Regions from separate parts of the Homo sapiens genome. Here all the other regions are reported to be linked to region 1. The links are microRNA targets in miRTarBase. Many come from high-throughput screens and were not tested one by one. Region 1 holds a microRNA gene; each other region holds the end of a gene's coding sequence.
Evidence for each region. The annotated mature microRNA hsa-miR-4309 reads CUGGAGUCUAGGAUUCCA and lies in region 1 at 1,458-1,475, opposite strand. An mRNA with a match to its seed (bases 2 to 7 or 8) in the 3' UTR can be bound and repressed. Matches are read on the target gene's strand: a 7mer-m8 pairs with bases 2 to 8, a 7mer-A1 pairs with bases 2 to 7 and ends in A, and an 8mer does both.

Region 1 (5,176 bases):
GAGCTGTCTGGCAGGTCCTTGCAACTGTACAGCGCAGCCAGCCCAGCCTCCAGGCCTAGTGCCTGGGTTAGTCATGGCCCCTCCATCACAGGCAACGCGTGGCTCTACCGGGAAGGTGCTCAGGTGGAGGAATTTCACACAAGGTGACGGGGGCCAGGGCATGCTTCCGGCAGGAAGTCAGCCCTGGAGATCTCAATACTCACATGTGTGTCTCAGTCACACTGTGTGTTTGTGTGTGCGGAACGTAGAGAGCTGATCACCTCAAGGGACATCCCAGCCCATAGCCCCCCACCGCACACACACCCCCAACGCACACACACAAACATGTTCCCAATGCAAAGCATGCAGTGTTGCCCAATGCGCTCATCCCGGAGGCAGGTGTCCGCTTCGACACCGTGTGGTGACACATGCACGACGGGGGCAGATCCCCAGCACCCGCCTTCTCATTGTGAGCCGCCTTTGTTTTGCATTCAGACACGTGGAGCCCCGGGAACCAAGCTGCAGGGCCAGTGCCTTCCAGCCTTCCAGGCCCGAAGCCTCCAGTCCCTCAGGAGCTCCTCAGGCCTTCAGGAGCCCCGGCAAGCACCCTCCGGCTCCCAAGCCCTTCCGGGCCTGCCAGCGGCCTGCTGTAGAGTGGGGTGGGAAGCCGTTGGGAGGGAGGAGCAGAGGAGTTCTGGTCTCCCCTAGCCGGGCCTCCTGCCGGGACACCTGCCAGCTGCTCCCCACCCCCGGCCTTGGCTCCTGGCCTGGCAGCCCCCGATTCCTCCCCTTCACACACTCAGGACTGCAAAGAAGGCCGGGGGAGGCCCCACTAAAGCACAGCCTCCAAGGTACACCTGGAGACTCGGGGACCTTGGGGGCCCTCAATCCCTCTGGGCCTCAGTTTCCCCCAGAAAGACAGGCCCAGAATCAAGAGGGATCTATGACAATGGGGGTGGGATTAGGCGTGTGTGTGCTTCCTGCGCATCCTGGCAGGCTGTGGGCGTTCTTGGCAGGCATCCACCAGTCCCCAGGCTCTGGAGGAGGAGGCCGGATGGGGGTGGGAGGCTGGGAGCCCCGGGGGAATGAGCTGCACCGCCCACACCGCCATAGGAGCGGCCTCCACACACCCAGCCCAGAGAGGCTGGACCCACAGGGCAGTGGCCTCAGAGGAGATGCTGGGCTCCCTTGCTGGTGTTGGGGAGGGTCGTCTTGGGTGGTCTTCCCCCTACCTTTCGCCCAAAGGTGCTCTGGGACAGACCCCTGACCACCTCCAAAGACTTGGGCCTCAGTCTCCATAGAACGAGGGGTTTCTGGACCACCTGCCAGCTGCCTGGGCAGGGCTGAGCACCAGCACTTTAGGTCCATTGAACTTTGGGGGCTGCCCAGTCCACCCCACTGCTTTCACCTCTGTCCTGGGTTACAAGAGGGGCTTCAAACCGCAGACCCTACAACCCAAGACCTCAAAACCCAGATCCTGGAATCCTAGACTCCAGAACCCCCAGACAGGAACCCGGACCAAGAATGTTCCCCAGAGCTGCTCAGGGGCCACGTAGGGCCTTTCTGTCCTTCTGTGACAAAGACACTTGTCACTCGCGCTCCAGGGATGGGGCATGGAGTGCCTGCCTTCAGAATCTGAAAGGCCTTCTCCAGAAACTCCCGGTCTCCACCCCCGGCCCGCCAAGGGGCGGGTGCATCCCACCTGCTGTGGGCTGAACCTAGTCCTGGTGGCTCTTATCAGTGCCCTGAGAGGTCCCCGGGAGGGAGCCGCATCCCACCAATGGATGAGGACACAGGAGCCCCATGGAGCTCACCCCCAGCCTGGCCTTCCCAGAACAGAAAGATGGCGGCCCCCAGGAGGCCCTCCTGGCCCTGGCCCGGGTCGGCTGAGGGCAGGGCCTGGTGACAGTTTCCGGTGTGTCCTCCGCAACAGCCTTCTCAGGCTCTCACCCTCACCCCACCCCAGAGTCTCTGTACACCCCTGCTTGGACAGCTGGGGGGCACATAGAGCATGACTCCGGCCCACCAGGGCCAGGGTGGGGGCTGCACCCCAAATGCCTTTGGCCTGAGTCCTCTAGCGGTTGGGAGGAGCCACCCTGACAGGGGCATCAGGTGATGTCCTAATTGCATCCAGTTAGGATCCAGTAGGCCTCAGTGGGCCCCAATAGCAGCTGGGGCCAGGCCTGGAGGAGGGGATCTGAGCCCTGGGCCGGCCGGGCAGCTACGCAGGACTCTGCGGGGCCGGGCATGGCCTGGCGTTTCACACGACCCAGTCCCATCCCTGGGCCTCAGTCTTCTGTGTGTGGAACAGGAACACCCCCTTGAGGGCTGTGGTGAGGACCCGATGATACTGGCGAAGTGCCCTGGGCCCAGCTGGCCCTCCTGTCTTGGTCCCGGGGCATGGTGGGAAGGGAGCTGGGGGGCAGAGTGTGGCAGGGTCATCCCCCTCCTGACTTCCTGGCGTGGCATTGAGTTGGGAAAGGTTGCAAAGGGGTGAGCTCTCCTGAACTGGTGGCCCAGGCAGCTGGGGAGGGGCAGCACAGCGCAGAGTGCCCCTGCTGGGTGCTGGGTGGGGCACCAGTGTCCAGAACGCTCAACACAGCCCTCCCCTTGGGGCTGCAAGGCCCCCACCCCATATTAGCCTGGCAGCACTGGGGATGTGGCACCAACACCTTCCAGTGGAAGTGTCTGTGACGGGAGGTGAAGGCTGGGTATTTAAACATCTGGAACCAGCTCTGAAGGCCAGGCCCGCTGTGGGGGGTTTGGGTTCCAGCCAGCCGCGCAGCGTGGGAAGGATCACAGCAGTGTGGGCCAGTGGAGAGCGGTGGCTGGCTCCAAGTACAGATTCTGCCTCAGTTTCTCCATGGGTGTCTTGGGGGCTGGTCTTCCTCAGCCCCAGCTGCCTGCCCTTCTCGCCCCCCCACAGCTCATTTCTGCAGGTGGCCCTCCCTCCAGCCCCGGCTGGGCCCCTTCCCTGTGGCTGAGTTACCCCCGGCCTGCCCCTGCCAGTGGGGCTCCTGCTCCCACGGGGGCATCCTTCACACATTTTTTCCCAAACCGCCCCTCTCCCGCGTCATCACAGCTCCTTGGATTTACATCGGCCAGAGCAGCAGGCCTGGGCCTCCTGTTCACCAGCCATCCCTGTCACTGAAGCTGGTGTGCCCTGGGGCAGGGTCAGGGATGTGGCACAGAAGGCTGCCCGGCAAGTGCCTGAGGAAAGAGGGAAAGTCTGAATGCACAGAAACAAACACATCAACAGATGCTATTCACAGCTCACGAGAATCCCATGATATCCCCATTTACAGAAGTAGTGGGCACAGAGAGGTTAAGCAACTTGCCTGGAGTCACACAGCCTGGAAGTGGCAGAGCTGGGATTTGAAGTCAGATGAGTGACAGCCTTCAGCAGCAGGCCCTTTCCCTGAAAAATGGGACCTCCTGGAGGCTGGATAAGGCCTCAGTGGAGACACTGTGGCCCTCACAGCAAGTCTGACAGACACACAAACAGAGACTTCAGGTCTTGCCCTGGGAGGAGAAGGAGCTGGCCCTGCTTCCTCTCCTGCCTGGGGAAGGATGTGCACACACCAGGAAGCCACCAAGAGGGGCTCAGATCCCAGCAGGTTTGCCCTTGGCCTGGGCCCCAGACCCCCCTGTGGTCCTAGGTCTGAGGACCTGCCTGGGGACAGGGCTGGGCCGCTGGTCCCAGGGCCTTGCAGCCCCAAGGGGAGGGCTGTGTTGGGCATCCTTGAAACTGGTGCCCCACCCAGCACCCTGACGTACTCCCCTGGGGGTCAGCTCTCCACAGCAGCTGAGGTTGGAGGGCTTAGGGGCCCCAGAAGTGCCTTGCCGGTCAGTCACCCTCAGAGCACCAGGGAGGACTCTCCCAGGAGCTTATTAGAAATGGAGGGTCCAGCCGGGCGCAGTGGCTCACACCTGTAATCCCAGCACTTTGGGAGGCCGAGGCGGGAGGATCACGCGATCAGGAAATCAAGAACATCCTGGCTAATACGGTGAAACCCAGTCTCTACTAAAAATACAGAAAATTAGCCAGGTGTGGTGGCAGGCGACTGTAGTCCTAGCTACTCGAGAGGCTGAGGCAGGAGAATGGCATGAACCCGGGAGGCGGAGCTTGCAGTGAGCTGAGATCGCACCACTGCACTCCAGCCTGGGTGACAGAGCGAGACTCCATCTCAAAAAAAAAAAAAAAAAAAAAAAAAAGAAATGGAGGGTCCTGGCCAGGCACCGTGGCTCACGCCTGTAATCCCAGCACTTTGGGAGGCCAAGGCGGGCAGATCACAAGGTCAGGAGTTCGAGACCAGCCTGGGCGACATGGTGAAACCCCTGTCTCTACTAAAAATACAAAAATTAGCCAGGCATGGTGGCGCAGGCCTGTAATCCCAGCTACTCAGGAGGCTGAGGCAGGAGAATCACTTGAACCTGGGAGGCAGAGGTTGCAGTGAGCCGAGATTGCGCCACTGCACTCCAGCCTGGGCAACAGAATCGAAACTCCATCTCAAAAAAAAAAGAAAGAAAGAAACAAGCCCCTGAACTCTGCTCCCTCTCCTGTCTCCAACTCACGAGGAGGAGCAGGCAGGCTCGTGGCTTATCTGCAAGGCTGTTGTAGTCGGGCGGGTCGGGGGACATAGGGTAATCCCTCCAGCGTCCTATCGATGTCCCTGGTCACCCTCCGCAGTGATTGCACGAAGAGCTTTCACTGAGCACTCCAGCTGTCCCGAGAGCTGTCAGGGGATCTCACCTGCTCAGGACTCCTCGTTTTGCAGTGGAGGAAAGTGAGGCACAGAGAAGTTATGTAATTTGTCTAGAAGTATGTAACACAGCTGGCATGCATAGGAGCCGGGATTCGAACCCAAGCCATCAGGCCCAGAACCCCTGCTCTTAACCATGAAAGTTATATGTCTTCTTGTGTAAAACAGCTGGAGCCCCCATCACGCGACAGGGAGAATGGCCATCTTTCTTCCCTGGGTCCTACAGGAAGTCCAGGCACCCCAGGGGCTTCCTCCATTCTGAAGAAAGACTAGGAAAACCTCTGTCCCAGGACACCCTTCTCTGCCGCCCACTGCCCGGCTGCTGGGGCTGCCTCACTGAGGTAGGTGTCAAGGGCACAGGAGGGGAGGGGTGCTCCCAGGGCCTGGCTGCCAGGGAATTTACATGCCCTAGAGTCACAATGCTTCATCTGGCT
Region 2 (5,000 bases), not on the chromosome of region 1:
CTTTTCTTGGAGGCTCTAAGTTAAGGAAGCACTGGGTGGCAAACTTAGAGTTTCCTAAGCATCCTTCAGTATTCTTGCTAAGTTGTGTTCTCAAAGGCAGGGCCCTCCCAGGGTGCCTTTGGCTCAGGTGGGAGAGGAGAACTGGAGGAGCTGACTCTGTCTCCAACAAGCTCCTGGGCTGTGAGCAAGCCCTGCCCTTCCCTGAAAGTGCAGAATCCCCCTGTCTGCACTCCACAGCCACCCTTTTTAGATGGGAAGGAAAGGGATTTGCCAAAGTTCAGTTGATGTGGAGTGGCGCTGGGACTCACATCCTAATTTTCTGACACTTAAGCCAATAGTCTTTCTTCGTGAAAATGTACCTTGTGTTTAGAGGCTCTCTGATGTTCATTCTGGTTGGTTTCAGGGGTGTCTGAGTGCATCATCATGGGAATCCCAATGAACATTGGAACCGGGCTCTTCAAGCTGCTTCACAAGGCTGACAGGGACCCGAACCCTCCCAAGAGGCCCCTGATCTTCGACACAAATGAATTCCACATCCCCCTTGTCACATAGTCCAAAGAAAGAGGGGACCATGCCTGACCTTGACTCCTTGTCCTGTCTCCAGCTGATGTATAAAGAGTTTTGTGCTCCCTGGGACGGGGGTCCTGAGGTCCCCACCTATGCCAGCAATCAGAGAAGCCCTCTTGGCATCCCCAGGAGCAGCTTCTCCTCTGATAGGGTGCAGCTCACACCAGTGACCCTGACTGTGCCACGCTGCTCGGGAGAGCTGAGGGTTTTATTGTTTGCTTGCTTGAAACCTAATCTATAGACGGCCCCACAGCTCGTGCACACACTGCTTCCCTGGACTTAAAGCCCAGCCAGGTGTCATGGTCCATCCCAGCTCACTGCATACATCCATCGGCTCCCCATGGTGTCTTCACACCTGACGATGAGCCAGGCCTGAGCCCCACACAGGCCAGGGCACATTCTTGGATTTTCCATTCCTTGGTCATGCTGGAATCTCTCAATGTGACATACTTATGTAAATATTGTTACTATTATTTATTTGTTCCATTTGAGGGATTTGGAATTTTTGTTATTTTAGTTTTATTTTTGAAACCAAGCATCTATAGAAACCAAGAAAGTCAGCATGTAAGCGTCACTGGAAAAACTGGTTTAAGCAAATAGAGCCGTCTGGGATTTGTAACTGAGGTGCAACTGTCATGAGGCCCAGGCAGCTCTGTAACATCTTCTATAGATGCCCCTGGCTACCCTGTTGTTTTCATCTACCTCAGACCCCTATCATGGGGCTCTACCCTGTGACAAGAGCCAAACCCATTCTCCATGGCCTATGGAAGCCTCACTGGAGTTTGGGGCCTGCTGCAATGGGGATGAGATGGTTTTTTGTAGAATTATACTTACGTTCCTTGGATGATCTCTAGTTGATTTTTTAAGTTCTGAGTTGATGCTGTTAAGGTACCCGGGGTAGCCATTGGTTCTTGGATCTGTGTTAGAATGAGTGCTTTCCCTTCCTACTGATGTGATTGTGGATTAGGAATTCGTGACCGAGTGATTTTTGGCCAGTGGTTGGGTTTAAAATTCTATTAAAATTTGTAGTTTGGGCTGGGTGCTGTGGCTCATACCTATAATCCCAGCACTTTGGGAGGCCGAGGGGGGCAGATCACTTGAGCCCAGGAGTTCGAGAGCAGCCTGGGCAACATGACGAAACCCCGTCTCTACAGAGAATACAAAAATTAGCCAGGCATGGTGGCCCATGCCTGTAGTACCTGCTATTGGTAAGGCTGAGGTGGAAGGTTCACTTGAGCCTGGGAGGTGGAGGTTGTAGTGAGCCAAGATCGTGCCACTACACTCCAGCCTGGGCAACAAAGCAAGACCTTGTCTCAAAAAAAAAAAAGAAAAAAATTAAGCGTAAAAAAAAATTAGTTTTTATAAAAAATTATAGTTTGACCTTTTGATTTCCCTGCATCTACAAGGTAGACCTATTAACTTCTCTTGGGGTATCAGTGATGTGGAAAAAAAATGCCATTTTTCTTAATGTTTAACCCCCCTTTATCTTTGAATTGAGCTAGAGCCTGGTTTAGGACAAAGGATTAAGTTTGTTAATGAACACTAATTCAGGGCTTCTACTTGAGACCCCACCGAGATCACCAGTTCTCATGTAACCTGGGAAGAGCCATAAAGGGGTACCCCCCACCCCAACTGCCTTCCTGGAAGCATGCCTGGGAAGTAAGCTGTAGGCCTGATCCGAGCCAGGACCACTGGGATCCGTGCAAAGGCCAGGGGAGGGTAGAATTGAATCATAGGAGTGAACTCCGGCACCTGTTGTCTTCTGCGGGTGACGCACACTTTAAATGGAAGAGAGGTTGTGGCTATAACTTGTGGCTGGGAATAATAAAGATGGCACCGCCAAGGAGCCTCACCTTGCGTGAGTGAGTACTCAGTTGGGCGCTGCAGGGTCTGGAGTCTGTGTGAGACGTGTGTGATTGTGATGGGTGCGAATCAGCGTATAGCACTTGAGAACAAGGCAGACCTTGGAGCAGAATGGTTATGTGAAGGATCACATCACCCATGGGTAGGGGGGGAAGTCATACGTCCTGGAGGTGCTGGTCCTCCTCCTGGAACTGCCAGCCTTGCTAGGACTATCAACATCAACAGCATTGCCTGGTAAACCCTACTGTTTGTGCTCCCCACTGTGTCCCATGACTGGTGTTAAAATTCTCCCTACTTTGATCATCTGCCCTGCCCAGGCCTTGGGCTTTATGCCAGCACAGAGCTCAAAGGCCAGGTAGCAGCACATCCTCAAGCATGAGAGCTCAAAGGGTTACATTTGAGTCTCTGTACCTGCTTGGAAGAAATAAAAATACGTGTGAATTCCATCTCATCCATGAATAGTTACAAATTCTTGACTAGCATTCTGTCCAGTTCTTTGCCATTTTTACGTCTTTTTTACAAGGGAGATTAAAATAGCTCCTGACTCAGTTACAGCTCCCTGCAGTGTTCAGCACTTTAGGGGTGGGAGAGACATTCTGGAGTCCTTCAGTATATATATGTGTCAGTTAAACTATGGTGCCGTGTTTCTATTTCAGGGTTTATCCATGTGTATTCCCATTGATTCATGTCTGATTGAACCTGGCATTGTATGTTTACTTTTCTTGATTTTTGCTGTCTGTTGGCAGACCTCTTTATTTTTCAGCCAAAACCCAAGAGAGGAAATATTTGCGTTACCTAAAACTATAGCAGAATCATCCTTATGGGTTGTGAAAAAGGACGTTGGCCTTGTATGAGTTCTAACTCCTAGAATGAGAACCAACCCCCGTCAGGAGCTCACCTCTTCGGGTGCTGGAGGTCAACAGTGAATGCCCCAGTTACCCCCACCCCTGTGACTTAGAAATGTAGGAAATAAAGTGCCCTCTGAGATGCAGCTAATCCAGTCCCAGTAGGAGGCGCTGAAAGGACTCAAGTCTGGAGTCTGAAGGGCCGTCTGGCCAGGATCAGGTGCATAGCTTAACTTTTATTCATTCAACAAAGATTTAAGGCTTGCTACTTCCAAGGCACTGTTCTAGGTATTAGGGGTGCAGCAGTAAACACAATAGGTGAATCAGATGTTAATACATCTGGCCAGGCACGGTGGTTCACGCCTGTAATTCCAGCACTTTGGGAGGCCGAGGCGAGTGGATCACCTGAGGTCAGGAGTTGGAGACCAGCCTGGCCAACATGGTGAAACCCCGTCTCTACTAAAAATAGAAAAATTAGCTGGGTGTGGTGGCACGTGCCTGTAATCCCAGCTACTGGGGAGGCTGAGGTAGGAGAATTGCTTGAACCAAGGAGACAGAGGTTGCAGTGAGCCGAGATCACACCATTGCACTCCAGCCTGGGAGACAGAGCGAGACTCCATCTCAGAAAAAAAAAAAAAAAAAAAAAAAAAGATGTTAATACATCTAAAAGGAATTCCACAGAAGCGGGTGAAGCAAAAAGGCTCAGGTTCAGTGTGCAGAAGTGTGTCCAGCACACTCTGGGGTGGAAGCTGCAGATCAAGGGATTGTGCTCCCGTGGGCACATCAGGCCCACCAGGGTAAAGAAAGGTCCTTCTGTGGCTGCAGCCCTCTGGTTCCAACCCCTCCCACAGGGCCTCTCATGACACTAATTTGGCCTCCTTACCTTAGGCTTGGATTCTGGGGAGTGTGCCCTGAGCGAGGACACAAGCCTGCAGTCACTGGGAAACGTTGCCACCATCCTTTCCTCAACCTACTGGCAGTGTTAGCGTGTGAACATTTGAATCCATTAATATTTGCTACACTTCTGCTCTGTGCCAGGCAGTGCACTAGGCCCTTGGGGAAGGTCCCTGCATGAATGGAGCTTACCATCTGGTCAGGGTCATCTTGTTAAGAGCCTGAGTTCTACAATCAGTGTCAGGATTTAAATCCCAACTCCCCCTTTCTTTTTTTTATTTTTATAATTTTTTTTTTTATTTTAAATAGAGACAGGTCTTGCTATATGTTGCCCAGCTGGTCTCGAACACCTGGGCTCAAGCAATCCTCTCAAAGTGCTGGGATTACAGGCGTGAGCCGCCATGCCCAGCGTCAATTCTCCCTTTCCATCTGGTGCACATGAACAAATTACTTAACCTCTCCTTGCCTCACTTTACTCATTTATAAGCTAGGAATACTGTTTAGTAGTGTTTGACTCATTGGGTCATTGTGAGTTTTAAACGTGATTACACATAAAAAGGTCTTAGTACAGTGCCTGGCACATAATACACATTAAATGTTTGCAATTATTAATACAGTGACTTTTTTTTTTACTGAAAAACATGGTCTGTGAATTCACAACTAAAAACCAATCCCCTGGCTCTCTTTATTTGACCCTAAGTGGAGCTTGGTGGACTTGGGATCCAGCCTCCCTAGACATAATGACTACCCAGCTGTCTGCTCAATCAGTAGGTCGTGGGAAGTATTTTACATGGGGGGGGAGAAGGGTTCGGGAAGGGGATGGATGTGGCC
Region 3 (5,000 bases), not on the chromosome of region 1:
GTTTTGTTGGCTGTGTACTTTCCCAGTGAATGGATTATATTCCTTTCTGCGAGCCAGTCTGTTTGAATTTAAGGGCATCTCTTAAATTCCTTTCAAGCAAGAGACCTAACATTTATACTTAGGAATGAGAGTAGTAGAGACAGCAAGATTAGAATCCAAGTTCATATACCAAAACATTTTTATTTGCTATGTCTGAGTGACTACATGTTGTTTGAATCAACTGCAGGCTAATTTGTAACATTTCAAATAAATGATAGTTTAATTCCTCCAGGATTTGAGTAAGGTGAAAATAGAGCTAAAAACCATGATTCTGTCACAGTCTGGGAAAATGAAAAAGCAATCAATTAGTGAGTTGGGCTTAATTTTTTTTTTTTTTTTTTCTGGAACTGGTGATAGCAGAAAACAAGCAGTAAAGTAGTCAGACATGATATACTTGACAAGAACCACCACCTGTTCAGTAGCAACTCTAAAATAAGTACTAACTTAGGGGCAGTTGTTGTGCCCAGGTCATAGTCATACTCCTTCCAGGAGACTTCCTGATGACAGAAAAGATGCTGACCAGCTGGGGTCTTCTTTCCAAATAACTTTTCTCTTGCATTTAGATTAATTAACCATTGGTTACAGTGAAACAAGCATATGTACAGAGTTAATCTCCTATAGCTTGAAGTTATACATGATCTTTATTTGAGTATCTTGACTTGTTAAAGGACAGTGTTTTAAAAGCTGGATTTGGTTATGTTCTTCTGGAGACTAAGAAAATAGAGTCCTTGAAATCAAGCTGACTCTGCTTTTAGCCTCCTAAATGAAAAGGTAGATAGAACAGGTCTTGTTTGCAAAATAAATTCAAGACCTACTTATCTACCAACAGCAATTACACGCTTTCCATTGTCTTCCTATAGAAAATAGGAGTAGTACACTTATAGATGAGAAAACTGGAGAAAGACATAGTGAACATGTGAGAATCTTGCTCTACTAATTGATAGGAAGGTGACTAGAAATTGGCGAAGTTTTCTTGGTAAGTTGAGGAGAGGACTTTTCTTATAGTGCAGTCTGGTAGCTGAACCGCCTTGCATCAAGACCAATGTAGTCTTATTTACAGAATGCCACATCACAGTGAATTGTGCTGTGGACAGCTTCCAGTGTGTGAGTTGTGGAAGATGATGATTTTAACAGATTTTGGAGGATGAGAAGTATTAAGAAGAAGGCCCCACTGTCCATGCATTTGCTCTGCTTTTTACTTTTGACCAAGTATACACTTCAGAAATATCTTATTGGATGTATACAAAGTGATTGTGTGTCATTTGAACCAGCAGGAAGTAATTTATTAAACACACTTTTCTAAATAAAAGTCATTTAATTTTATCAGAAATCAGTGTCATTTTAGATTGCAAGTCTCAAACCAACTTTCCAATTCTGACTTGTAAGGGTGCCTTAAATCCTGAATACTGTACTCTGTATTACTAAACCCATGTTAGTTTACGCCAAGATTCTGTGGTGGTTTTACATATTCTTTTTCCCCTTTGTTAAGGTGGGGAGGCCACAGCTTATGTGAATGACTTTCTCAGGAGTTATAAAGTGATACAGGTAAAGCTAAGAAAAGAACAGATTTTGATAACTTTTGTTTTAACTGTCCAGTGTTAGGGATTGTGGCTACAGTGGTCTAATTTTTAAAAACTCTTTTTTTTGCTTTGTTTTTTAACAGACTTATCAGCAGGTTGCAGGTGAACATGGCCTTGAGGTAAATCTGTCCCTTGCTGAATACAGTTTCAGTAGATTGTTTATAGTAGTTTCAGGAATTGAGATTTTTTACAAAAATACAAAAGTTTTGCTTGGTTCTGTTCTAGATGTTTTCTTCTAAATAAATGAGAAAGATGTTTCAACAAAGGCTCTTTATGCTGAATAATTGTGATGCTTGAAGTTGCTAATCTGCTTTAAGTGGATTTTAAATGTCAGGCAATTCTAGACAGTTTTTTCTTGGTCAAATAAAAATTTAATTAAAACTTTATACGTGTTGAGTTTTTAATCCATTTATCCGTGTTCATACTAACGTGTAGTATTCCATAAAGCCTATTAGAACCCTGAATTCAAACTTGCCTTCTCTGTGATATCCTGTTTCTTACTTGGTAGTTTCTATTTCAGTAGCTGAGAACTTTTTTTTTTTTTTTTTTTGAGATGGAGTCTTGATCTGTGAGCCATCTCGGCTCACTGCAAGCTCCACCTCCCGGGTTCACGCCATTCTCCTGCCTCAGCCTCCCGAGTAGCTGGGACTACAGGCGCCCGCCACCAGTCCCGGCTAATTTTTTTGTATTTTTAGTAGAGACGGGGTTTCACCGTATTAGCCAGGATGGTCTCGATCTCCTGACCTTGTGATCCATCCACCTTGGCCCCCCAAAGTGCTGGGATTACAGGCGTGAGCCACCGCGCCCGGCCGAGAACATTTTTAAATATACATGATATGTATCTTTTAATTGTTTATAACTGGAACTATTTCTGTGCTTACATCTGCTGTCCCTTGTTTCAGAGTAGACAGTCCAGCTTGGCAGGATAGGTGTGTGTGTGTATAACGAGTTATTAAATTGTCAGTGTGAATTGTTAATTCAGGAATCTGAGCTGCCATTTATACGAGTAGGCAGAGTTTAGTAGGAGATGAGAGTCTTTCAGTTTGTCAGACTTTGCAGGTGCTGGAAAACATCAGAGGTTTTTTGTTTGTTTGTTTGTTTGTTTTTGAGACAGAGTTGCGCTCTTGTTGCCAAGGCTGGAGTGCAGTGGCACAATCTCGGCTCACTGCAGCCTCTGCCCCCGGGTTCAAGCAATTCTCCTGCCTCAGCCTCCTGAGTAGCTGGGATTACAGGCGCCCACCACCATGCCCGGCTAATTTTTTGTATTTTTAGTAGAGACGGGGTTTCGCCAGAAAAAAGAAAAGTGGACTTTTTTTTTTTAAACACAAAACCTTAAATGATGAGATTAGGGCATATCTGGGTTTAGAGGCATCTGTGGGACATGATACTGAATTGTAATTGCTTCACAAATGGAATTATTCTGCAGCTTCACTCACAAGCTTTGAAAATGCTGTGTGTGCAGAGCTTAAGTGGCAACTGGAAACTTGAACAGGAGAACCAGGAATGTAGCTGATGGAGTTGGGCATTGAGCTCACAGAATGGCCTGGGGGCAGTGAGGCAGGATGCCTGAAAGCTGCCTAGCTAGAGATCAGTCTTCCTTCCCGTGCTCAGCTTTGCCCTTTGGTGGGCTGTTAATTTCTTTTAAAAAATTGTTGTGCATTTGCTAATATGCCACAGATGCCCTTCTGTTCTTTCACGCTGCCTCCATTCTAGGTTTTTTCCCATTTCTTGGCCATAGGTCCTTTGCTGTAGTTTTGAAAGAGCCCTGCCATCCTTCACATGGAGAGCAGTAAGAGGCCAAAGAGCAGTGGCTGAAGAAGATACTAATTTATTCAACAAATACTTGGTGACAGCTGTTATGTGTTAGCCCTTGGTGATCTAGCAATGAACAAAACAGGCACTGTCCCTCCCTTCATGGAATTAGGCATTATAGAGGTAATTTCAAAATTAGAGAGTGGTGCATACTGTGTAGGAGTGGAACAGGGAATACCCTGTATGCAGAGTACACAGTGGAAGGGACCTCACCACAGTGCTGCTCACTATTGGGAAAACGAGGGTAGAAGACATTGAGAAGGGCACACAGCTTCCCTGGTTCTCTACAGACAGCCTCTCGCCTTCTCAAGTGTATTCTTGGCTGACTCATGAAATGCATGGGTGTACTGGTGCTGCTGGAGCCATTAAGACTACCCTCGTCCTCTCCCAAGCTCTCTAGGTCTTGGAAACTCAAGATATTTTGCATATACACGAATATAGTTTGACAGCTTCAAAGACTTTTGAGTTCGTTTAGTCTGAGCCTTTATTTTACAGCTGGGCCTGGTAATGACTATCCTAGCAGCACACAGGTAGCAGCACACAGGACTAGAATCCAGGTTGGGTGAAATGAGCGCTAGCACACCAGTCAGATAATAGCATGAGCCATAAATTGTGCTGGGCACATGGTGCTTAAGTGCCAGGTTCAGCCAGCTAAGGCGTGAGCAGCTGCGAGAGGGGTAGGCATGGAAGACAGGAAACTGGACATCAGAATGTTCTAATAGAAAGTGACATGTTTTGGCATTGAAATGCCATTATGTACCTTTAGACACCCAGGCTTTTCCAAAGAAAAACAGGGATGCACAAATTCGTGAAGCTGACAACTAAATGTATATAGATGCTGAGAAAGGTCCACATTGAAAAATGACAACTTTGAATGTTCATAGTCTAATAGAATGCCAATCTTCTTTGGTGGAACTGTTATTCTTATATCTGGAGTTGTTCTGTTGTGCAGAAATTCATACTTATGCCTGAAAATTAAATTTGACATAATAAAGTTTCAGTAATTCTATAGATTGACTATTTATAGAACATTTCATACTAATTTTATTCATAGTCCTATGATTTTGCTATTTTCTAGTATTAAATGACTACCAAGGTGACAAGCCATTTCTAAAACTATACTCTCTAAACTATCTCTTTTCTAAAATTTGTCCTAAGAAACATTTTCTTTTTTTTTTTTAGATGGAGTCTTGCTCTGTCACCCAGGCTGGAGTGCAGTGGTGCAATCTCGGCTCACTGCAACCTCAGCCTCCTGGGTTCAAGCAATTCTCCCACCTTAGCCTCCTGAGTAGCTGGGATTACAGGCGTGCACCACCAAGCCCGGCTAATTTTTGTATTTTTAGTAGAGACAGGGTTTCACTGTGTTGCCCAGGCTGGTCTCGAACTCCTGAGCTCAGGCAGTCCACTTGCCTTGGCCTCCCAAAGTGCTGGGATTACAAGTGTGAGCCACTGCTTCTGGCCGAAACATTTTTCAAACATCATTTTTTCTCTAGCAACCTCTTAACCTAAGAAATTTACCTATAGCATCCTGAACTCTCTTTCATCTAAACTAGCATAGGAATAGAACAT

Region 2: miRTarBase lists POLR3A as a target of hsa-miR-4309. The part of its 3' UTR that is shown has no 7-base or 8-base seed match.
Region 3: the mRNA of FSD2 is a reported target of hsa-miR-4309. Seed matches in the 3' UTR shown: 7mer-m8 at 2,174-2,180.

Annotation. Positions count from the first base shown.
Region 1 is chr14:102,535,953-102,541,128 of GRCh38, reverse strand. MIR4309 (microRNA 4309) reads right to left here and starts at 1,485; the gene lies at 1,403-1,485.
Region 2 is chr10:77,973,030-77,978,029 of GRCh38, reverse strand. POLR3A (RNA polymerase III subunit A) reads left to right here. Exons shown (of 31, transcript NM_007055.4): 31 at 404-2,881. The coding sequence ends at 552. Among named protein-coding and RNA genes, the nearest start is that of DLG5-AS1, 49 kb to the right of the region's middle.
Region 3 is chr15:82,755,202-82,760,201 of GRCh38, forward strand. It overlaps FSD2 (fibronectin type III and SPRY domain containing 2), which reads right to left. Exons shown (of 13, transcript NM_001007122.4): 13 at 161-4,399. The coding sequence ends at 4,147. SNHG21 (small nucleolar RNA host gene 21) reads left to right here. Exons shown (of 3, transcript NR_110098.1): 3 at 1,703-2,005. It also overlaps SCARNA15. Among named protein-coding and RNA genes, the nearest start is that of SNHG21, 7.1 kb to the left of the region's middle.